Linked DNA regions of Homo sapiens. The protein of the gene in region 1 interacts with the protein of each later gene in a pairwise test. Each region holds a gene or a part of one and is shown in the gene's direction. Other genes may lie near its edges.

Region 1 (2,705 bases):
TTTTGCCAAGCCACCAGATCAGAAAAGGAAAGAAAGAAAAGCTCAGAGGCAAGCAGCAAAAAATCAAATGTGAGTGAAATTTGTATACTTAAAAATTGTATAAATTTTAATATTTATACACTAATTGGAAAATAACAGGTGTTGATCAGACTTGTTAAATGCATAACATCTCTTTAAAGAAGACTTGAACGTTTGAGAGTCATAGGGAAACACCAGTGATCTAAGTGTTTATTGAACTCTTACTATGAACCATATTTGTGAAAATAATCAGAATTGTAAATAACTGGAATTTTGGTAAATTGGCAAGATGAAAAATCTGTCTAGCTTTTTTTTTGTTTTGTATTGGGTGACAGAGTCTCACTTTGTCACTCAGGCTGGAGTGCAGTGGCACTCTTTCGGCTCACTGGAACCTCCACCTCCCGGGTTCAAGAGATTCTCCTGCCTCAGTCTTCTGAGTAGCTGGGTTACAGGCGCCACCATGCCTGGTAATTTTTGTGTTTTTTTTTTTAGTAGGGGTGGGGTTTCGTCATGTTGGCCAGGTTGGTCTCAAACTCCTGACCTCAGGTGATCCGCCCACCTCTGCCTCCCAAAGTGCTGGGATTACAGCTGTGAGCCACCATGCCTGGCCTATCTCACATATTTTCTTTGTATTTTACAGAATGTTCTTCTGAAAATGTCTTAAATATTAGCTGTCCAAATATCTTAATACATTTTGTTAAAGGGTGGAGAGTTTTTTCTCTGAGAGATAGGAAATACTAAATCTCTATTCATGATAGACTGTTTCTTCACCAGTAGTGCTCATTGCCACCCCAAAAATTTCATGTTCGATGGATGGATTTTGAAAATGAAATGAGTATTAAAATTATAACACAGTAGTGCAATAAGAAAACAAGTAGGTGTGTAATGAGTTATACTAATTAGGGAGACCTTTTTAGAGAATCTGTAAATAGGTATCTGCTTAAGACTGAAGGAAACTTAGTTGGGTAAGAATTGAAGTTAGCTCCTAAAAAGTTAGTTACTGATTTCCTAGAAGAGGGGTAATTGTTCTTGAATGTGAGAGCAATAATCACTGTCAATACTATTCAAGGTTAATTTTCTGTTGATTGCCCTGTTTGGAATTTAAAGGAAGAGGATGCTTCTACATATTTCTGTTACTTCATAATCAGGGAATTGATCAAGTTCTAGTTTCTGCAGTTAATTGTCCAGTTGGACAAGTTGGCAAGCTCTGAACCTCAATTTCTTCAGTTCTAAAATGGGATCAGACAAAATTATGTAATAGCTCTGGATTATGTGATTATCCAAGTGACCCATGCTTGTTCTGGGACCAAAGAAAATATACTTTGTAGGTTTGATGATAGTGTAAATGAAGGAAGACTACAAAAAGAGTTAGTTTTAATGCTCTATATTTCAAACACCTGGATATACTAAACAGTGTAAAATAACTTCTTTTTATTTCTTTCAGAAGACGATATATGGTTAATTTATTAAAGTAGAATGTAAGTATAGGAGATTATATTAGATAATGTGATTAGAGCAGTTACATTTGGTACTTGATAGAGGGAGATACTAAATAGAAGGTGGAGGATGTCAGTATATCTGTTAATATTTGAAAAGGAGTACAAACTAAAAGGGATGATTGCATGTTACTTTCGTACTTTAACTTGCTACAGTCTTTTTTTTTTTTTTTTTAAGTTTTAACTAAGCACGTATTCCTACATAATTCTCACTGTATTCCTGTGAGTTAGGTACTCTATCCCTTAGTTTGAAATGAGGAAACTGAGGCTCAGAAGTCAACTTCCTTGGGGTCATTCACATAGTAAGTAGTGGAGTTGGATTTGAACTAAGGTAGTCTAGTCTCCCATAATTTTCCCTCTTAACCACTATACCAGGATTTCTCATCTCTGTCCTCCTGACATTTTGGGCTGGATAATTCTTGGTCTTGGGGGCTGCCCTGTGCGTTGTAGGACTTTTAGCAGCATCCTTGGCCTCTTCCTGCTAGATGCCAGTAGCACCCCCTTTCTCAGTTATGACCGTCTAAAATGTCCCCCTGGAAAGAGGTGGTGGCAAAATTATCCCTGGTGAGAACTATTTAGAAATAGAAAAGGATGATCTTTCCATCATTTCCTCAAAACAATAAACCAGCAGAGCACATAAAAGGTCTAAGGACCTAGTGAACCGGAATAACATTTTTACGTTAGTCAGTTGGAACAGGGGCCTTTAATAATTCAGGATAAAATAAGGCCGGGCGTGGTGGCTCATGCCTGTAATCCCACCACTTTGGGAGGCTGAGGTGGGCAGATCACTCTAGGCCGAGGTGGGTGGATCATTCGAGGTTAGGAGTTCGAGACCAGCCTGGCCAACATGGTGAAACCCCATCTCTACTAAAAATAAAAATTGGCTAGGTATGGTGGCACATGCCTATAGTCCCAGCTACTCGAGAGGCTGTGGCAGGAGAATCACTTGAACCCAGGAGGTGGAGGTTGCAGTGAGGTGAGATTGCGCCACTGCATTGCAGCCTGGGTGACAGAGCAAGACTGTGTCTCAAATAAATAAATAAATAAAATAACATAACAGGTACGGAATAAAAAACACGAGTAAATTATTCCTTCAAGAGGGATTAATTTCCATATTTCATGGGATTATTGGGCTCAAAATAATCACTAAGTTTTAAGGAATTGTATAAAATTGTACTGTAGGGAACATGA
Region 2 (3,500 bases), on another chromosome or scaffold:
TTCAGACAAAAAAGGAAATAGTCCATTATAAAATTATCTTGCACAGTGCTCTTACCTCTGTTGTAGCTTATTATATAGTTGTTGATTATAGATGATTATAGGAATCAGGTTGTAGTAATAAGAAAGTCTCCTTTTCTATAACAAGTTTAAAGCAGGTGTAGTGTATTTCCAAGAGATATATCTCATATATCTCATTTTTTGTTCTGTAAACAGGAAGCACAGTCCTATGCAGATGACAATAGTTTATTATTCATGGAGACATCCGCTAAAACATCAATGAATGTAAATGAAATATTCATGGCAATAGGTAAGATTAATATCTCTTTTTAAATGATCAATATAAGCAAAACAAGTGTGAAGCATATTTGGTTTGACTGTCTCTTTTTTAAAAAATTTTTGGGGGTGGGTTTGTGTGTATGTTTATGTGTGTGTGTGAGAGAGAGAGAGAGATTATACCACTTTTCTAAGTCCCTTCCACAAAACAATATTTTGTTGGTAATATTGTTAAATTTGAAAGATGATTACCTATTAGGTTGTAATACTGTCAGTTTAGGCAGCTTCTTCCAGGTGAGTTAAGCCTTAACCTCTTAACCTGATAGTTCAGACAGACAGATTTTGCAAAGGTTTCGCTGGGAAATTTGGATAAATATTTTTTTTATTAGATTATACTTTTTAAAAATCAAATTATTGGTAAATATAACTCAGAAGAACATGACACATAAGTATACAGATTGACAAATTATTTTAATGTAAACATTATAAGGAAGATGATTTCAAAGCATAGAGGCGTAAGGAGAAAAAAGGAAAACAAAACAACATCCATACTTTATATTACCTCAGATGGTCATTTGATCTTACACAATGTTCTTGCTGTTGCTTTAAGGTACTTTTTTTTTTTTTGAGACAGTCTCGCTCTGTCGCCCAGGCTGGAGTGCAATGGTACGATCTCAGCTCACTGCAACCTCCACTTCCCGGATTCAAGCGGTTCTCCTGCTTCTGCCTCCTGAATTGCTGGGATTACAGGTGCACACCACCACGCCCAGCTAATTTTTGTATTTATAGTAGAGACAGGGTTTCACCATGTTGGTCAGGCTGGTCTCGAACTCCTGATCTCGTGATCTGCCCACCTCGGCCTCCCAAAGTGCTGGGATTACAGGCGTGAGCCACTACACCCAGCCTAAGGTACTTTCTTTTTTTTTTTTTTTGAAATGGAGTCCTGCTCTGTCACCCAGGTTGGAGTGCAGTGGGACGATCTCGGCTCACTGCAAGCTCCGCCTCCTGGATTCACGCCATTCTCCTGCCTCAGCCTCTCCTGTAGCTGGGACTACAGGCACCCACCACCATGCCCGACTAATTTTTTTTGTATTTTTAGTAGAGACGGGGTTTCACCATGTTAGCCAGGATGGTCTCAATCTCCTGACCTTGTGATCCGCCCACGTCAGCCTCCCAAAGTGCTGGGATTACAGGCGCGAGCCACTGCCCCTGGCCCTAAGGTACTTTTAACTGATGGTAATTGCTGTTTCAGTTATAAGTAATGAAGTTGGAGTAGTAATAAGCCTCCTTTTTTCTATAACAAAAATAAAGGTTGGTTTTGTTTTTTGGTTTTGGATTTTTTTTTTAACCCTTTCCTCTTTCCAGTGGTTTTAATGTATAGATTCTACCTGAAGGGTCTGTTTTGGTGGTTCTCAAAGTTTGCCGTCTGTGGTTTTCATGTGCCCAGCACTCTTCTCATCCCATAACACCTTTTATTTTACAGCACTGATTCTTAACTGGGGTGTTCACAGTCCTAACCCCAAGTAAGAAATATTCTTAAATTGAACTCATAAATAGTTAATAGCTGAATCAGAGAATAATGAAAACCCAGTAAAAGTTGCAAGTATTTTTATTATTTTTCACTAGGTGACAGAGTTTAATGGTACTTCATTCGAAATGGGAAAGAACTTGCCTTTTCTCATGTAAACTGTTTTCCTGAAAAACTCAAGTTTGCAGTTTGCTAGGGAAGTGCTGGCACAGTTGCGAAGGATTGTGTGATAATATACTCATTTTACAAATGTGACAGATGACACCCAGAATCACATCTGAAAAGTTAGAGGAAACAATGAGTTAATAGGCCTCTCAAATCAGCCTGCACTGTAAACCTTTCTCACAATATTTAAACTCTACCAGATGGGCTTTAGTTTGTACCTTTTTATTCAAACATGCTAATAAAGTCATTTTTCGAGTTAGAAAGCAGCCTACATATTTTAGTTTTTTGTTTTTTTCTGAAATCAGAATGTTGCACTTCTTAAAAGAAAATCTATGTTGTAAATGGAATTGTGGCCTTTCCATTTCCTTCACTAGGTTAGTAAATTTTTTTTTCTTTTTTTTTTTGTTATGAAGGAACACTTTGATAGATTAGTAACTTAAATCACACAGTGCACTCATAACAACTCTAATCAATGCAAGGACTAAAAAGTTACTCGTTCTAGTTTACCTCCTTCATCCTCTTAATCTCACTCACCTCTGATTTAAACACTTAGGGAACATGCTAAAGGGATACATGATTGATTACTCAATCTGGAACCTAAGTTGTTATTATATACAATATATAGTGCTATTTTGTGTCCCAGGTACCAGTGTTCAACATTTCTGGGGCTTTGCTTGTAAATACATTTGACTGGAGATTTACCATTATAATGCTATTTATGCTACCAGCCCAGAGCCAGTCCCAGAGAAGTGGCCCAATTGAAGGCTTTCTTTCCAAACTTCAGTGCTCCTGGCTCCCAAATCCATTGCCCAACCCAGCATCTAGGATTCTAAAAATGATTGATGCTGATGTAGAATGGAATGTGTAGAACAAATAAAGGATAAAAGGTTCACAATGCAACTAGGCAATCCGATCTCAAAGCAGAGTGTATTCAATTTCTGAGTAACCTGAGTCAAAGCTATGGTAAAGTTAGAGTCTTACCATAGTGGTCTGTCCCCAAGATTGATAGAGATCAGTGTGTGCAGCCACTCTTAAAATCAGTACTCTTAGTCATCTTTAATATTCTGCCTCCCCTCAAAAAATGAATTTAGCACATCAAGGATCTTATGTATTAAAACAAACTACAGCAATCTCCAACTTTACAGTGGTTTGACTTACGATTTTATAACTCGATGGGGTGAAAGTGATATGCATTTAGTACATTCTTAACTTACTACGGGATTACATACAGAAACCCATCATAAATTAAAAATATCATAAATCAGGCTGGGCGCAGTGGCTCACTACCTGTAATCCCAGCACTTTGGGAGGCCAAGGCGGGCTATCACCTGAGGTCAGGAGTTGGTCAGGAAACAAGCCGGGCCAACATGTCGAAACCCCGTCTCTACTAAAAATAGAAAAATTAGCTGGGTGTGGTGGTATGTGCCTGTAGTCCCAGCTACTTGGGAGGCTGAGGCAGGGGAATTGCTTGAACCCAGGAGGCAGAGGTTGTAGCGAGCTGAGATCGTGCCACTGCACTCCAGCCTGGGTGACA
Region 3 (3,500 bases), on another chromosome or scaffold:
AGTGAGTATATTTTGGGGATCTGGGGGCAGAAAAGGGATTATTTTTATTTTTTAAGTGTGGAAATGTGGCCTGGCGCGATATCTCATGCCTGTAATCCCAGCACTTTGGGAGGCCGAGGTGGGCCAATCACCTGAGGTCAGGAATTCGAGACCAGCCTGGCCAACATGGTGAAACCCCGTCTCTACTAAAAATATAAAAATTAGCCGGGCGTGGTGATGGGCACCTATAATCCCAGCTACTTGGGAGGCTGAGGCAGGAGAATTGCTTGAACACAGGAGACGGAGGTTGCAATGAGCCGAGATCATGCCATGGCACTGCAGCCTGGGCGACAGAGTGAGACTCCATCTCAAAAAAAAAAAAAAAAAAAAGAGTGGAAATGCATTAAATTTCTTCTTTTAGCCATTGGGCTTTAGGTCTTACTATTAAAAATCTCAACTGCATTTTGATAAGTCTGTTTCTAGGCAGCATTAGCTTTAGCAACAAGGATGGAGGGGTGAATGCCTCTGAATGGGAGAGGACACTGTTGAAATAGAATTGTGAATGTCTGTTTTTCTCAAGTATCTCAAAGAATTGGTAGGAGTGGGAGAAGAGAGAAGCCTTGAAATCTTTGGAGATTTTCCATTTGCATTTCACATCAGCAGAGTGAAGCCAATGAGTATGCAGCTGGTGGCGTGATAGCCAATGCATAGTCTTGGAAAAATGGAAAAATGTTATTAAAGACATGTTTTCACAGTTTTTTTCTCTACTATTCAGTCTATTTTGTGAAAAATGTCACAAAGACTCAGTAAGTATGCTCTCTACAAAGCATTTTGGTGTTTTTTTTTATGATTACACAGGTATATTAAATACAAGTAACCGTGATGTTTAAGGAGTGTGTGCAATTAATAGAATTTAGTCTCATGGTATAAGAATGACACACGGGACAAGATACGCAATTATTAAAGGAAAATTTTTTTTAAGGGAAAAGTTAAATACGTATTTCTTTTTTTTTTTTTTTTTTTTTTTTTTTTTGAGACAGAGTCTCACTCCGTCGCCCAGGCTGGAGTGCAGTGGCATAAATGAGGCTCACTGCAACCTCCTCCCCCCGTTCAAGTGAATCTCCTGCCTCAACCTCCCGAGTAGCTGGGATTACAGTGCACACCACCACGCCTGGCTATTCTTTTTTTGTATTTTTAGTAGAGACGGGATTTCACCATGTTGGCCAGGCTGGTCTTGAACTCTTGACCTCAACTGATCCGCCTGCCTCAGCCTCCCAAAGTGCTGGGATTGCAGACGTGAGCCACTGCAACCAGCTGAGTTAAGTATGTATTTATGTGTAATTTGTTATTAAATATAAATACAGTAGACTAAATATACAACATTTTAAGTCAAGGCAAAAGCAAGGTTTTATACACATGTAATTAACTGTCTTAATCCCTGTGAGACCTCAGTTTTCTCATCTCTAAAATGATGGAGTTGAACGAGAAAAACTCTCTCTCCTTAATATTTACTTTTTCTGCACTTTAGGGTGTGGTAGGAGAAATGTGAAGATTAACTTAATAAGTAATTATTAATCCCCTGTCAAATACTTCTAATTTTATTATTGAAACATGGAATTTATTCACCTTACAGAAAGGCAAGTAATTTCTAATAGCTCATGGTAACCTGTTACCTTGAACTGAGTGTTCATTGTTTACTAGGAGTGGTATACATTGTCCTGCGTATTCGTGATCTAATGTCTATTTGTATTAGTCTGTTCTCACTCTGCTAATAAAGACATACCCAAGACTAGGTAATTTATAAAGGAAAGATGTTTGATGGACTCACAGTTCCACATGGCTGGGGAGACCTCACAATCATGGTGGAAGGCAAAGGAGAAGCAAAGGCACGTCCTACATGGTGGCAGGCAAGAGAGCTTGTACAGGGGAACTCCCATTTATGAAACCACCAGATCTTGTGAGACTTACTACCACAAGAAAAGTATAGGGGAAACCGCCCCCATGTTTCAGTTATCTCCACCTGGCCCCGCCCTTGAAATATGGGGATTATTACAGTTCAAGGTGAGATTTGGGTGAACACACAGCCAAACCATATCACTAGTATTTTTTTATATATTTTCTGATACAAGCCAGTGTAACATAAAGAACAGCTGCGTGGTAAAAATAACTTTCATTCTAGATAGAAGACTACATGACTTGATATACTGGGGGTCTTTTTAAACTATAAATCTCATAAAGTGTTTTAGTCTCCTCATATGGTTTCTGGCCTGGATCTCCATTTCCAGAGTGGGGCTTTTAACTGGTGCCTTCCGTTTGGTCCCTCTCTAGAGCACTTGAGCCTGGTCTGAGTACTGTGCAGACCACAAGCAAGAATCTAAATGAGCAGACTATGGTAGTGTTGCCTGGGTTTGGATACACTTATTATGTAACCTTGGGCAAGTTTTTTAACCTTCTGGGCTCAGTTTTCTCATCTGTAAAACTGAATATCCTAAAATAAGTTTTTAGGATTATGTGAGACACAATAAGTAGGGACTTTTTAGCATAAGGGAATGTCCATGCGTTGTGTCACATGCTAGTTATAATTCCTGGCTTTCTGCTTCTCTGAAGAATAAGGGCTTGGCACACACATTAGTTGGGCTCATCTGATAAGCTCTAGCCCAGAGGGTGGCTCAGCATATGCATGCTAAGGCCTACTTTTTCATAACAGGGGCTTTCTTCTTGTCTTGGGGTAGACTAGTTCTACGCTGAGATATTGGGAATATGTTTGTAGTCAGCTTTTCTCTAAAAGTGGATGATGTGAGAAAATATGCCATTTATTATTTCTGGCTGATGAAAGGTTCCTTACAGGGACAGGACAAATCCGTGTTAAGATGTGAAAAGCTCATCTTTCCCAGTAATTTTACCTCCACAAATCTGTCCAAAGGAAATCATTACCAGGTAAATAGTATTTAATGTCTTTGTTGAAGTCTCTTACTTATAATAGTTAAAAAAATGGAAACAACCCAAGTGTACAATAATAGAGTAATTGTTAAATAAGATTCTAATTTAGACACTGAATATCATGTGGCCATTAAAGATTTATTTGAAGGGTATTTATAACTTAGAAACTATAGTACACAAAAAGTTAGATATAAACCTATGTATAGTGAGACCTTGGTTATATTTTAAAAGGTGTGTGTGTGTATAAAGATAATGTATATATACAAATCCATACATGTCATAGAACTGTGTAGATACACATACACAAACATACACAGCATGAATACAGGTAAAACTAGGAAAATCAGAATAAGATTGGTAGATTGTATCAATATCAATATCATTGTTGTGATGTTTACTGTAGTTTTATAAATGTTACCATTGGCGGAAACTAGGAAGGGGCACAAGAGATCTTTGTATTATTTCTTACACTGTGTGTGAGTCTATAGTTATCTCAACAAAAATTTCAATCAAAAAATGGCACCAGAGCTAGATTGTTGTTTAAGTAAGTTCTGCTGATCCTTCAGAGAAAGATATGTTAT
Region 4 (3,500 bases), on another chromosome or scaffold:
TCACCATGTTGGCCAGGCTGGTCTCAAACTCCTGACCTCAGGTGATCCGCCTGCCTGGGCCTCTCAAAGTGCTGGGATTACCGGCTGAGCCACCGCACCCGGCCTGGATGGTTGGTTTTTTGTTTTTGTTATTTTTTTTTTCTCTATCTTCTCTCTTTCTTTGGCTGGCTGTTTTTGAGAGAAGAGCAGGGTGATCTGATTTGGCCAAGGAGCAGGAGGCCAGCTTCCCCGAGGAAGGAACATCCAAAAAAACATCCAAGCTGATGCAAGAGGCAGTGTGAGCCTGGCCCAGGGAACGACATGTGGGAAGACAGGCGGAGTTGGGGGCAAGTGCTGAGGCCCCATAGCCGTGGGAAGAGGCTGGACTTTCTCCTGTGGGTGCTGGGCACTCTGGGGCCTGGGACCCAATCAGCGCTGAGTCTCTGGAAGCCCCAGTTCTTTTCTCGTTAAAGAAAAAATGTTGTGCTGGACATTGTTCTAGGCGCCGGGTAAACAGAAGGGAGCAATACAAAGCCCTGCCTGATGGAGCTGACATCAGGAGGAGGAGACAGACAGCAGACACAGAGCCATACCGTGCCAGGTGGAGATAAGTGCTGGGAGAGGAATCAGGTAGGGTTAGGGGAGAAAAAAAGAAGGAGATGGGGCCAGCCTGAGCAACATGGCAAAACCCTGTCTCTACAAAAACAAAACAAAAATTAGCCAAGCGTGGTGGTGCACACCTGTAGTCCCAGCTATAGCTACTCAGGAGGCTGAGGTGAGAGAATCGCTTGAGCCCAGGAGGCAGAGGTTGTAGTGAGCCGAGATTGCACCACTGCACTCCAGCCTGGGCGACAGAATGAGAGTCCGTCTCAAAAAAAAGAAAAGAAGTAGGCCTGATGTGTTTGAGGATCAGCAAGGAGGCCACCGTGGCTACAGCCAGGTAACCCAAGAGGGAGGGATGGGAGCTGAGGTCAGGAAGGCAATGGGGGAAGATCGTGCAGGGCCCTAGAGGCCTCAAGGACTTTGCTTTTACCCTGAGTGAGGTGAGAGCCACAGGACGGTTTGAGCATAGAAACAATATCTGACTTGTGTTTTTTTAAACAATTATATTGCAATATAAGGCCGGGCGCAGTGCTTACACCTGTAATCCCAGCACTTTGGGAGGCTGAGGTGGGTGGATCACGAGGTCAAGAGATCGAGACCATCTGGCCAACATGGTGAAACCCCGTCTCTACTAAAAATACAAAAATTAGCTGGGCATGGTGGTGTGCACCTATAGTCCCAGCTACTCAGGAGGCTGAGGGTGGAGAATTTCTTGAACCCTGGAGGCAGAGGTTGCAGTGAGCCGAGATCGCACCACTGAGCTCCAGCCTGGGCAGCTGAATGAGACTCCATCTCAAAAAAAAAAAAGAAAAAAGAAAAAAATGTATATATATATGGCGATATAATTTCCACACTATACAATCACCTCAAAGTGTACGATTTGCTTGAGACCAGGAGTTTGAAACCAGCCTGAGGAACATAGTGAGACCTCATCTCTACAAAAAAATAAAATTATCCTGGTGTGGGGTCGCACCTCTGTGGTCCCAGAAGCTCAGGAGGCTGAGATGGGAGGATCGCTTAAGCTGGGGAGATTAAGGATGCAGTGAGCCGAGATCTCACCTTTGCACTCCAGCCTGAGCGAGAGAGCAAGACTGTGTCTCAAAAAAAGATGAAAATTAAGGCCAGGCACGGTGGCTCACGCCTATAATCCTAGCACTTTGGGAGGCCAAGGCAGGTGGATCACAAGGTCAGGAGATTGAGACCATCCTGGCTAACATGGTGAAACCCCGTCTCTACTAAAAATACAAAAAAATTAGCCGGGCGTGGTGGAGGGCACCTGTAGTCCCAGCTGCTCGGGAGGCTGAGGCAGGAGAATGGTGTGAACCCAGGAGACAGAGCTTGCAGTGAGCCGAGATCACACCACTGCACTCCAGCCTGGGCGACAGAGCGAGACTCCGTCTCAAAAAATAAAAAATAAATAAAAATTAAAAATAAAGTGTACAGGATCAGGCGCGGTGGCTCATGCCTGTAATCCCAGCACTTTGGGAGGCTGAGGTGGGCAGATCACGAGGTCAGGAGATCGAGACCATCCTGGCTAACACAGTGAAACCCCGTCTCTACTAAAAATACAAAAAATTAGCCGGGCGTGGTGGCGGGCGCCTGTAGTCCCAGCTACTCAGGAGGCTGAGGCAGGAGAATGGCGTGAACCCAGGAGGCGGAGCTTGCAGTGAGCTGAGATCGCGCCACTGCACTCCAGCCTGGGCGACAGAGTGAGACTCCCATCTCAAAAAAAAAAAAAAAAAGTAAAATAAAATACAGCGTACAATTCAATGGCTTTTAGTATATTCAGAGTTATGCAACCATCACCACGATCAATTTTAGAACATTTTCATCACTCCAGAAAGAAACCCTGCACCTCTTAGCCATCCCCAATCTCCCATCTTCCCTGTCTTCCCCCAGCCCCCGGCAGCCACTCATCTACTTTCTGTTTCTATAGATTTGCCTTTTTTTTTTTTTTTTTTTTGAGACGGAGTTTCGCTCTTGTTGCCCAGGCTGGAGTGCAATGATGCAATCTCAGCTCACTGCAACTTCTGCCTCCCGGGTTCAAGCGATTCTCCTGCCTCAGCCTCCTGAGTAGCTGGGATTACAGGCATGCACCACCATGCCCAGCTAACTTTGTATTTTTCGTAGAGACAGGATTTCTCCATGTTGGTCAGGCTGGTCTCAAACTCCCAACATCAGGTGATTTGCCCACCTCAGATCCCAAAGTGCTGGGATTACAGGCGTGAGCCACCACACCCGGCCTATTTTTATTTTTGAGACAGAGTCTCGCTCTGTTGCCCAGGCTGGAGTGCAATGGCACGATCATGGCTCACTGCAACCTCCGCCTCCCGGGTTCAAGCGATTCTCCTGTCTCAGCCTCCCCAGTAGCTGGGATTACAGGCATATGCCACCATGCCCGGCTAATTTTTTGTATTTTTAGTAGAGATGGGGTTTCACCATGTTGACCAGGCTGGTCTTGAAGTCCTGACCTCAGGTGATCCACCCGCCTCGGCCTCCCAAAGTGCTGGGATTACAGGCATGAGCCACCACATGCGGCCAAATTTGCCTATTTTGGACATTTCATATAAATGGCCCCTGTGATCTGTGGTTCTTTGTGACTAGCTTGTTTCCCGTAGCCTAACTGACTTGTATTTTGGTTGGACCCCTCAGGCTGCTGGTGGAAAAAGATACTGTCAGGGACAGGGGTGGAAGCAGAGAGCCCTCAGGGAGGCGATGACTGCAGTGGTCCTGGTGGGAGATACTGGTGGTTGGGCCAGGGTGGGGGACCAGGAAGAAAGAAGTTGTATGTATTTAATTTGAAGGCAGAGACGATAGCTTCTGTATGTGGATGGTGTCTTAGTAAACAAAACAGTGAAGGTGTTTAACCTGAGCAGCTGGGAGGATGGAGCTGCATCAGCTGAGATGGGGGTGGCTGA
Region 5 (3,500 bases), on another chromosome or scaffold:
AACACATATTAACCACCTGATAGGTCCTAAGGATTAAATGAACAAATTTTGATGAACAAATAAATGGACACTTCCTGTCTTCAATGAGCTTTCAGTCTAGATGAGGAGATGGGCTTTAAATAGATTATTCCACAAATAAGTATTTATTTTCCATTTGATATGTGACATAAAGGGAACATATGGGATACTATAAGCATAGATAATGGACACTCTAACTAATATGAAGGGTCAGGGAATACTTCTCTGAGCAGATAATCAAACCACAATATGAAAAATGAGTAGGAGTTAGACAAAGAGAGGTGACCATTGGAGCCAGAGCACACGCATGTTTAGAAGCTCCCTGAGAAGGGGAGGAGCTGGGGGTGTTCCTCTGGTGGAAGGAACAGAGAGTATCTGGCCATGCTGGAGCATAATGAGTAGGGAAAGAATGGCCACTGACTGGGCTGGAGAGAGAGTGGAGGGACATTTGGCTTAGGGTCCTGTAATCCTTTTGAGGATTTTGGAAAAAGTTTGTCCTGTGTTCAATGGGCCAGATTTGTGTTTCTTAAAAAAGTCATGTTGGCTGCTGTGCAGAAAATGGCTTGGGAGTTGGAGGGGCAAGACAGGAAAGGACACAGGAAGACTAGTCAATGGGCAGTAGTTAGAGTGGTCCAGGAAAGAGAAGATGGGAGCTGTGACCTGCGTGGTAGCAATGGCTATAGGGAAAAGGTCAAATTTGAAATATTTAGAATATAGAATTGACAGAATTCAGTGATTGACTAAGGAGGGTAAGAAAGAAAGTTGTTAAGAATGACTCCCAAATAAGGTGCCTTGCTCAAGGTCATATCAGTTATTGCAAAGCAAGGATCCAGATTGGTTACTTGATTCCTAATCCATTATGCTTTCTATTATACCACTTAGCAGAAAGCCATGTAATATGGGAAGAATCTTAGCTGATGTTGCTGTTGGAACTGCTGTTATCTTCAAACTATCCAGACATCAAGTTTCTTTAGTCCCATTGTGCAGATCTGATAGGATTTAACAGAGAACCACAGTGTCTGGGCAGAAGATTGTATTGGGTTGGATTTGGGGCATTCCTGTCGTAAACATCTTTAAAATAGTGAATTCTACTTTTTAGCTGGACAAAAGAACAAAGCTCTTGGTGACATCTTATGTGTGATTCCCTCTACATTTTAGAGGGAAAGACCTGACAGTTTGTCTTTCACTGGAGTCATGACTTTATATTAGATATGCTTTTATGTACATAGTTATGAAAGAGAAATATATTTCAGCCCTGAAAAGAGTACTGATTTACATGGCCAGGGCATAAAGGAAATTGAATCTATCCTGCCTATTTGCGTTGTTTGATTTCTAGATACAGCTCTGGCTTGAGGTAATGCTGAATGACTTTAGATTTTAGAAAAAGATTTGTCTTTCACTTGTTGGTGGAAAAGGGGAGAGAATAGTAGTAGGAAGCATGGTGGCAGTAATAAGTACTACAGATAAAACGAAGGCATTTTCAAGCCAATCGAATTTTACTCTCAATTATTTTTTAAACAACTTGCAAGACTGGATTATTCCATAGACTGGTACTAATTATGATCTAATAGAGTAAATCGTAGCAGTGGAATGATTTCTTAGCTGCAAGTTAGTTTTATGTTTCTCAAAGGACAGTGTTTGTAGGAAAATGTGGTGGTGTGAATAGATTTGAATAAACTACTAAATTTTAAATTAAATTAAAAAGCTGTATTTAGCATTATGGTTGAGATTTTACACATACAAAATGTCAGGAAATTCTAAATTATAGTTCCCACAACAGCAATAATTCAGCCAAATTGCACATATGTATTAAGGCATTAAAGTTAACACTCTGTGCAATCATGTAATAAACTATATATGCATAAGAAAGCAGGTCATAGTAGCTTTGGGAACTATCAATTTGCATTTCCTGACTTGTACATTCGAAGTCTGAGTTCAAATGTGTACAAATGTAGTTGTTGAATTTCCAAATGTAGAAATGCAACTTCATAAATTGCTAACAGTTTGAAAGAAAATATGGACTTGCCTATGAAACTTGTATAGGTTTTAAATGTTTCATTATTATTATGGTTAATAGTATTTTTAGAAATACAAAGCATTTATTCTCAAAGAAATTTTCAGGCCAAAAGTATTTGCATTTTGAAATTAGCGTATCTGAACTTTGAAGGGAAATAAATGAAAAAAATCTAATGATGAGTTTATTTTTTCATTACAGAAGTATTATGTGCTTAATGAAAGAATAAAAACAAAATTGAAACATGTATAAAGAAAAAGATAATAATCTCCCTTCCTTCCCTTCAACCACTCCTGATGCAACCAGGGTTACTGTGTAGTATATAACTTTCTACATTTTGCTCCATGTTCTTTTTTTTTTGAGACAGAGTCTCGCTTTGTCGCCCAGGCTGGAGTGCAGTGGCGCGATCTCCCCTCACTGCAATCTCCGCCTCCCGGGTTCACGCCATTCTCCTGCCTCAGCCTCCTGAGTAGCTGGGACTACAGGCGCCCGCCACCATGCCCAGCTAATTTTTTTGTATTTTTAGTAGAGATGGGGTTTCACTGTGTTAGCCAGGATGGTCTCGATCTCCTGACCTCGTGATCCGCCCGCCTCAGCCTCCCAAAGGGCTGGGATTACAGGCGTGAGCCACCGCGCCCGGCCATTTTGCTCCATGTTCTTATAAACTTCTAGCCACCTATATAGGAATTTTTTGTGGGGGTCGTTTTTACAAAAATAGGATCATGCTATATATGTTAGTGTGCACCTTGCTTCAGATATCCCTCCAGGTTAGTATATAGTCTAGTTATCATGAGCATTGTTTGTTTCTTCTCTCACTGCAATCAAAGCTCTATGAAGACAGAATCTCATTAGCACATACCAGACTCTCAATAAATATTTTTTGAGTGAATGAATGCATTATGCCAAGTTGTGAGGAAGCAAACAAATACAATCTTTTCCCAGCGCTTAAGCAGCTTATCTGAAAAACAGATTCATTTCAATGTCATGTGACATATTCTTCGGTAGAGATATTCCTGAAAATTTCAGTAGGAAGGGGAGCATTTAAAGAAGTTAGCTTATATGACGATCTCCCTCAGACGTAATTTGAAAACCATGGAATTAAAAGATCTACAAATCTATTTTCTTTCATATCTATATAATATATGTGTAAGTTCAGTGTACAAGATCATAGTAAAATAGGTAGGTTTGTGCAAAAATTTAACCTTAAGGTTTAGACCGTAAATAATGCTTTAGTATAAAGATTTATAATCAGATTAATCTGTACTTTTCTGTTGTTTATTCAGTAATCTGTAATATGTGGTGTATCCTATAAATAAATCACCATGTTTTCATTGGTATTTAAAGATACCAATAATCTTTAATATACAATTTTTTTTCTCTGAACAGAGCATGTGACCATCTGCGTTGTATAGCCTGTGATTTCTTGGTAGTCAGCTATGATGACTATATGTGGGACAAATCGTGTGAT
Region 6 (3,500 bases), on another chromosome or scaffold:
TCTCCTAATGCTATCCCTCCCCCCTCCCCCCACCCCACTACAGTCCCCAGAGTGTGATGTTCCCCTTCCTGTGTCCATGTGTTCTCATTGTTCAATTCCCACCTATGAGTGAGAAGATGCGGTGTTTGGTTTTTTGTCCTTGCTATAGTTTACTGAGAATGATGATTTCCAATTTCATCCATGTCCCTACAAAGGACATGAACTCATCGTTTTTTATGGCTGCATAGTATTCCATGGTGTATATGTGCCACATTTTCTTAATCTGGTCTATCATTGTTGGACATTTGGATTGGTTCCAAGTCTTTGCTATTGTGAATAGTGCCACAATAAACATACGTGTGCATGTGTCTTTATAGCAGCATGATTTATAGTCCTTTGGGTATATACCCAGTAATGGGATGGCTGGGTCAAATGGTATTTCTAGTTCTAGATCCCTGAGGAATCGCCACACTGACTTCCACAATGGTTGAACTAGTTTACAGTCCCACCAACAGTGTAAAAGTGTTCCTGTTTCTCCACATCCTCTCCAGCACCTGTTGTTTCCTGACTTTTTAATGATCGCCATTCTAACTGGTGTGAGATGGTATCTCATAGCGGTTTTGATTTGCATTTCTCTGATGGCCAGTGATGGTGAGCATTTTTTCATGTGTTTTTTGGCTGTATAAATGTCTTCTTTTGAGAAGTGTCTGTTCATGTCCTTCGCCCACTTTTTGATGGGGTTGTTTGTTTTTTTCTTGTAAATTTGTTTGAGTTCATTGTAGATTCTGGATATTAGCCCTTTGTCAGATGAGTAGGTTGCAAAAATTTTCTCCCATTTTGTAGGTTGCCTGTTCACTCTGATGGTAGTTTCTTTTGCTGTGCAGAAACTCTTTAGTTTAATTAGAGCCCATTTGTCAATTTTGGCTTTTGTTGCCATTGCTTTTGGTGTTTTAGACATGAAGTCCTTGCCCATGCCTATGTCCTGAATGGTAATGCCTAGGTTTTCTTCTAGGGTTTTTATGGTTTTAGGTCTAATGTTTAAGTCTTTAATCCATCTTGAATTAATTTTTGTATAAGGTGTAAGGAAGGGATCCAGTTTCAGCTTTCTACATGTGGCTAGCCAGTTTTCCCAGCACCATTTATTAAATAGGGAATCCTTTCCCCATTGCTTGTTTTTCTCAGGTTTGTCAAAGATCAGATAGTTGTTGATATGCGGCGTTATTCCTGAGGGCTCTGTTCCGTTCCATTGATCTATATCTCTGTTTTGGTACCAGTACCATGCTGTTTTGGTTACTGTAGCCTTGTAGTATAGTTTGAAGTCAGGTTGCGTGATGTCTCCAGCTTTGTTCTTTTGGCTTAGGATTGACTTGGTGATGCGGGCTCTTTTTTGGTTCCATATGAACTTTAAAGTAGTTTTTTCCAATTCTGTGAAGAAAGTCATTGGTAGCTTGATGGGGATGGCATTGAATCTATAAATTACCTTGGGCAGTATGGCCATTTTCACGATATTGATTCTTCCTACCCATGACCATGGAATGTTCTTCCATTTGTTTGTATCCTCTTTTATTTCATTGAGCAGTGGTTTGTAGTTTTCCTTGAAGAGGTCCTTCATGTCCCTTGTAAGTTGGATTCCTAGGTGTTTTATTCTCTTTGAAGCAATTGTGAATGGGAGTTCACTCATGATTTGGCTCTCTGTTTGTCTGTTATTGGTGTATAAGAATGCTTGTGATTTTTGTACATTGATTTTGTATCCTGAGACTTTGCTGAAGTTGCTTATCAGCTTAAGGAGATTTTGGGCTGAGACAATGGGGTTTTCTAGATATCCAATCATGTCATCTGCAAACAGGGACAATTTGACTTCCTCTTTTCCTAATTGAATACCCTTTATTTCCTTCTCCTGCCTAATTGCCCTGGCCAGAACTTCCAACACTATGTTGAATAGGAGTGGTGAGAGAAGGCATCCCTGTCTTGTGCCAGTTTTCAAAGGGAATGCTTCCAGTTTTTGCCCATTCAGTATGATATTGGCTGTGGGTTTGTCATAGATAGCTCTTATTATTTTGAGATACGTCCCATCAATACCTAATTTATTGAGAGTTTTTATCATGAAGGGTTGTTGAATTTTGTCAAAGGCCTTTTCTGCGTCTATTGAGATAATCATGTGGTTTTTGTCTTTGGTTCTGTTTATATGCTGGATTACATTTATTGATTTGTGTATATTGAACCAGCCTTGCATCCCAGGGATGAAGCCCACTTGATCATGGTGGATAAGCTTTTTGATGTGCTGCTGGATTTGGTTTGCCAGTATTTTATTGAGGATTTTTGCATCAATGTTCATCAAGGATATTGGTCTAAAATTCTCTTTTTTGGTTGTATCTCTGCCCGGCTTTGGTATCAGGATGATGCTGGCCTCATCATCCTGAGGGAGGATTCCCTCTTTTTCTATTGACTGGAATAGTTTCAGAAGGAATGGTACCAGTTCCTCCTTGTACCTCTGGTAGAATTCGGCTGTGAATCCATCTGGTCCTGGACTCTTTTTGGTTGGTAAGCTATTGATTATTGCCACAATTTCAGATCCCGTTATTGGTCTATTCAGAGATTCAACTTCTTCCTGGTTTAGTCTTGGGAGAGTGTGTGTGTTGAGGAATTTATCCATTTCTCCTAGATTTTCTAGTTTATTTGCTTAGAGGTGTTTGTAGTATTCTCTGATGGTAGTTTGTATTTCTGTGGGATCGGTGATGATATCCCCTTTATCATTTTTTATTGCGTGTATTTGATTCTTCTCTCTTTTTTTCTTTATTAGGCTTGCTAGCGGTCTATCAATTTTGTTGATCCTTTCAAAAAACCAGCTCCTGGATTCATTAATTTTTTGAAGGGTTTTTTGTGTCTCTATTTCCTTCAGTTCTGCTCTGATTTTAGTTATTTCTTGCCTTCTGCTAGCTTAAGGAGTTTCATTCTTGTTGCCCAGGCTGGAGTGCAGTGGAGCAATCTCGGCTCACTGCAATCTCTGTCTCCTGGGTTCAAGGGATTCTCTTGCCTCAGCCTCCCAAGTATCTGGGATTACAGGCGCCCACCACCATGCTGGCTAATTTTATATTTTTAGTAGAGATGGGGTTTCACCATGTTGCCCAGGCTGGTCTCAACTCCTGACCTCAGGTGATCCACCCACCTCTGCCTCCCAAAGTGCTGGGATTACAGGCATGAGCCACCACACCTGGCCACAAGTTGCAAAACTTTTCTAATCCTTGTCATTGAAATAAATTGGATTAACAAGAAAGGAAAACCTGCCATTGGAATCCTAGGCAAAGAATGAACCCTAGCTCCTTACTGGGGTGATCGTTAGGTACATGAGAAGCAAAGGAAAACTTTTTGCTGGAAGTTGGAAGTTGGTTCTGCCAAGAGCACCTGAGCCAAGGGCCTCTCCAGGAAGGGTCTTTAGGGTGGTGGCCAGACACATCTCGCTCCATTCCCACTCACTGTTTTTCAGAACTATTTTCCAAGCCCGAACTGGAATCTTCCTTCAC
Region 7 (3,500 bases), on another chromosome or scaffold:
TCACTTGTTATAAGAATTCCCTCAAGCATCACAGTTTTTCCCATATTTGTAATGAGTGGCCCATAAGTAAAGATCTCTTTTTAAAGTGTAATTTTATATTGAGCAAACAGCTTGATGTGCGTATTTTCATAAAGTCATAGAATGTTAAAGTTGGGTGGAAACTCAAATCACTTAAGTCAGGAGATAGGAACTACTTGTCCAATATCACAGAGCTCTTCCGTGTTGGGGTCAAGATCCTGTGGACTCCTGGGTCTGTGCTCTTTATACCTCCTTTAAACGTAGCATCTCATTTATTGTTTTTATTTTTTGTGCCAACTTTCTGGTATATCCTGATCTGTACTGTCTAAGACCAGTGTTTCTCTGCATAAGGTCTAGGAATTGTGCATAGTGAGAGCTCTGACCTTCTTGTAGAACTTAAAATGCTCGCTTATTACATTGCATTGTGTGCAATGCTGTGAATTACATATATCCCCATTGTATGGATTAATAAACTGAAGCACAGAGAGTTACTGTTATTTGCTCAAAATCCCACAGCTGGTAAGTGATGAGGCTAGAGCTCAAAGTCTGGTTTTCTAATCACCAAAATGCTTTTTCTAGTCCGCTAGGCTGCGAAGGCATGAGAAGAACCAGAGTACAAACTTAAAATGTGAAGAGAAAGGGTGGAGAAATTAACAGCAGGAATGTGGAATGGTGAATTTGGAAGAAGCCTAGGAAGAGACACCAGCCCAGCTTTCCTTTTTCCAGGACGTCTTTTCTTGCTTCCACCGCCATCTTGCCATCCTCACTTTCACAGTCTCCAGTACTGTGCCGTGTGAGTGACAGGGGCCTGACATAATTGTGGCAGGGACAGCCATCACCTCACTCTCCCTGCGCATCTAAACTATCCCTAGGCGTGGGTTCCTAGCTGGACCCAGTAGACAATGTACTTGTCTAACAAAGTATAGCTCTTCGGAAGCTTGACCCTAGGCCATCAATATTAGATCTGGACTCTCATCCAGCTACTTTATTGGGATAAAATGAATACTAAAGTCTCCAGGACAGGAACTTTGTTTCTTAAAATTTATCTTTGTAGTTTCATCACCTGTATTACCCTCCTAGGTCTGCTGTAATAAAGTACCACAAACTGGGTGGCTTTAAAACAACGAGATGTCTTCTTCCACAGTTCTGGAAGCCAGAAGTCTGAAATCCAGATGCCAGCAGGGTTGGTTCCTCTTGAAGTCTTCATGGAGAATCTGTTCCTTGCCTTTCTTCTGGTTTCCCGTGGTGGCCAACGATGCTCAGCCTTCCTTGGCTATAGACACATCATCTGGTCTCTGCCTTCATCTTCACAGGGCATTCTTTCCTGTGTGTGTCTATACGTCTTCTTATAAGGACAACAGTCTTGTTGGATTAGGGGCCACTCTAATCCAATATGACTTCATCTTAACTTGATAACATCTGCAAAGACCCTATTTTTATTTTTATTTATTTATTTATTTTTTTTTTCCTTTCTTTTTTTTTTTTTTTATTATACTCTAAGTTTTAGGGTACATGTGCACATTGTGCAGGTTAGTTACATATGTATACATGTGCCATGCTGGTGCACTGCACCCACTAATGTGTCATCTAGCATTAGGTATATCTCCCAATGCTATCCCTCCCCCCTCCCCCCGACCCCACCACAGTCCCCAGAGTGTGATATTCCCCTTCCTGTGTCCATGTGATCTCATTGTTCAATTCCCACCTATGAGTGAGAATATGCGGTGTTAGGTTTTTTGTTCTTGCGATAGTTTACTGAGAATGATGGTTTCCAATTTCATCCATGTCCCTACAAAGGATATGAACTCATCATTTTTTATGGCTGCATAGTATTCCATGGTGTATATGTGCCACATTTTCTTAATCCAGTCTATCATTGTTGGACATTTGGGTTGGTTCCAAGTCTTTGCTATTGTGAATAGTGCCGCAATAAACATACGTGTGCATGTGTCTTTATAGCAGCATGATTTATAGTCCTTTGGGTATATACCCAGTAATGGGATGGCTGGGTCAAATGGTATTTCTAGTTCTAGATCCCTGAGGAATCGCCACACTGACTTCCACAATGGTTGAACTAGTTTACAGTCCCACCAACAGTGTAAAAGTGTTCCTATTTCTCCACATCCTCTCCAGCACCTGTTGTTTCCTGACTTTTTAATGATTGCCATTCTAACTGGTGTGAGATGATATCTCATAGTGGTTTTGATTTGCATTTCTCTGATGGCCAGTGATGATGAGCATTTCTTCATGTGTTTTTTGGCTGCATAAATGTCTTCTTTTGAGAAGTGTCTGTTCATGTCCTTCGCCCACTTTTTGATGGGGTTGTTTGTTTTTTTCTTGTAAATTTGTTTGAGTTCATTGTAGATTCTGGATATTAGCCCTTTGTCAGATGAGTAGGTTGCGAAAATTTTCTCCCATGTTGTAGGTTGCCTGTTCACTCTGATGGTAGTTTCTTTTGCTGTGCAGAAGCTCTTTAGTTTAATTAGATCCCATTTGTCAATTTTGGCTTTTGTTGCCATTGCTTTTGGTGTTTTGGACATGAAGTCCTTGCCCACGCCTATGTCCTGAATGGTAATGCCTAGGTTTTCTTCTAGGGTTTTTATGGTTTTAGGTCTAACGTTTAAATCTTTAATCCATCTTGAATTGATTTTTGTATAAGGTGTAAGGAAGGGATCCAGTTTCAGCTTTCTACATATGGCTAGCCAGTTTTCCCAGCACCATTTATTAAATAGGGAATCCTTTCCCCATTGCTTGTTTTTCTCAGGTTTGTCAAAGATCAGATAGTTGTAGATATGCGGCATTATTTCTGAGGGCTCTGTTCTGTTCCATTGATCTATATCTCTGTTTTGGTACCAGTACCATGCTGTTTTGGTTACTGTAGCCTTGTAGTATAGTTTGAAGTCAGGTAGTGTGATGCCTCCAGCTTTGTTCTTTTGGCTTAGGATTGACTTGGCGATGCGGGCTCTTTTTTGGTTCCATATGAACTTTAAAGTAGTTTTTTCCAATTCTGTGAAGAAAGTCATTGGTAGCTTGATGGGGATGGCATTGAATCTGTAAATTACCTTGGGCAGTATGGCCATTTTCACGATATTGATTCTTCCTACCCATGAGCATGGAATGTTCTTCCATTTGTTTGTGTCCTCTTTTATTTCCTTGAGCAGTGGTTTGTAGTTCTCCTTGAAGAGGTCCTTCACATCCCTTGTAAGTTGGATTCCTAGGTATTTTATTCTCTTTGAAGCAATTGTGAATGGGAGTTCACCCATGATTTGGCTCTCTGTTTGTCTGTTGTTGGTGTATAAGAATGCTTGTGATTTTTGTACATTGATTTTGTATCCTGAGACTTTGCTGAAGTTGCTTATCAGCTTAAGGAGATTTTGGGCTGAGACGATGGGGTTTTCTAGATAAACAATCATGTCGTCTGCAAACAGGGACAATTTGACTTCCTCTTTTCCTAATTGAATACCCTTTATTTCCTTCTCCTG

The links.
Region 2: the proteins of SYNCRIP (region 1) and RAB5A interact in binary tests that used the Homo sapiens proteins (3 or more experiments, as listed by UniProt).
Region 3: the proteins of SYNCRIP (region 1) and SDC2 interact in binary tests that used the Homo sapiens proteins (3 or more experiments, as listed by UniProt).
Region 4: the proteins of SYNCRIP (region 1) and MYPOP interact in binary tests that used the Homo sapiens proteins (3 or more experiments, as listed by UniProt).
Region 5: the proteins of SYNCRIP (region 1) and CFAP418 interact in a two-hybrid assay, tested with the Homo sapiens proteins (one study listed by IntAct).
Region 6: the proteins of SYNCRIP (region 1) and PECAM1 interact in binary tests that used the Homo sapiens proteins (3 or more experiments, as listed by UniProt).
Region 7: the proteins of SYNCRIP (region 1) and PRMT8 interact in binary tests that used the Homo sapiens proteins (3 or more experiments, as listed by UniProt).

Annotation. Positions count from the first base shown.
Region 1 is NC_000006.12:85,616,182-85,618,886, reverse strand, and holds part of SYNCRIP (heterogeneous nuclear ribonucleoprotein Q), read left to right. Parts: coding exon 1-69; intron 70-2,705. UniProt on the Homo sapiens protein: Heterogenous nuclear ribonucleoprotein (hnRNP) implicated in mRNA processing mechanisms. Component of the CRD-mediated complex that promotes MYC mRNA stability.
Region 2 is NC_000003.12:19,978,097-19,981,596, forward strand, and holds part of RAB5A (ras-related protein Rab-5A), read left to right. Parts: intron 1-213; coding exon 214-307; intron 308-1,864; exon of another isoform or gene 1,865-2,078; intron 2,079-3,500. UniProt on the Homo sapiens protein: The small GTPases Rab are key regulators of intracellular membrane trafficking, from the formation of transport vesicles to their fusion with membranes.
Region 3 is NC_000008.11:96,500,313-96,503,812, forward strand, and holds part of SDC2 (syndecan-2 precursor), read left to right. Parts: intron 1-3,500. UniProt on the Homo sapiens protein: Cell surface proteoglycan which regulates dendritic arbor morphogenesis.
Region 4 is NC_000019.10:45,892,614-45,896,113, reverse strand, and holds part of MYPOP (myb-related transcription factor, partner of profilin), read left to right. Parts: intron 1-481; coding exon of another isoform or gene 482-492; exon of another isoform or gene 493-1,645; intron 1,646-3,500. UniProt on the Homo sapiens protein: Transcriptional repressor; DNA-binding protein that specifically recognizes the core sequence 5'-YAAC[GT]G-3'. Dimerization with PFN1 reduces its DNA-binding capacity.
Region 5 is NC_000008.11:95,252,202-95,255,701, reverse strand, and holds part of CFAP418 (cilia- and flagella-associated protein 418), read left to right. Parts: intron 1-3,418; coding exon 3,419-3,500. UniProt on the Homo sapiens protein: May be involved in photoreceptor outer segment disk morphogenesis.
Region 6 is NC_000017.11:64,363,361-64,366,860, reverse strand, and holds part of PECAM1 (platelet endothelial cell adhesion molecule precursor), read left to right. Parts: intron 1-3,463; coding exon 3,464-3,500. UniProt on the Homo sapiens protein: Cell adhesion molecule which is required for leukocyte transendothelial migration (TEM) under most inflammatory conditions.
Region 7 is NC_000012.12:3,497,703-3,501,202, forward strand, and holds part of PRMT8 (protein arginine N-methyltransferase 8), read left to right. Parts: intron 1-3,500. UniProt on the Homo sapiens protein: S-adenosyl-L-methionine-dependent and membrane-associated arginine methyltransferase that can both catalyze the formation of omega-N monomethylarginine (MMA) and asymmetrical dimethylarginine (aDMA) in proteins such as NIFK, myelin basic protein, histone H4, H2A and H2A/H2B dimer.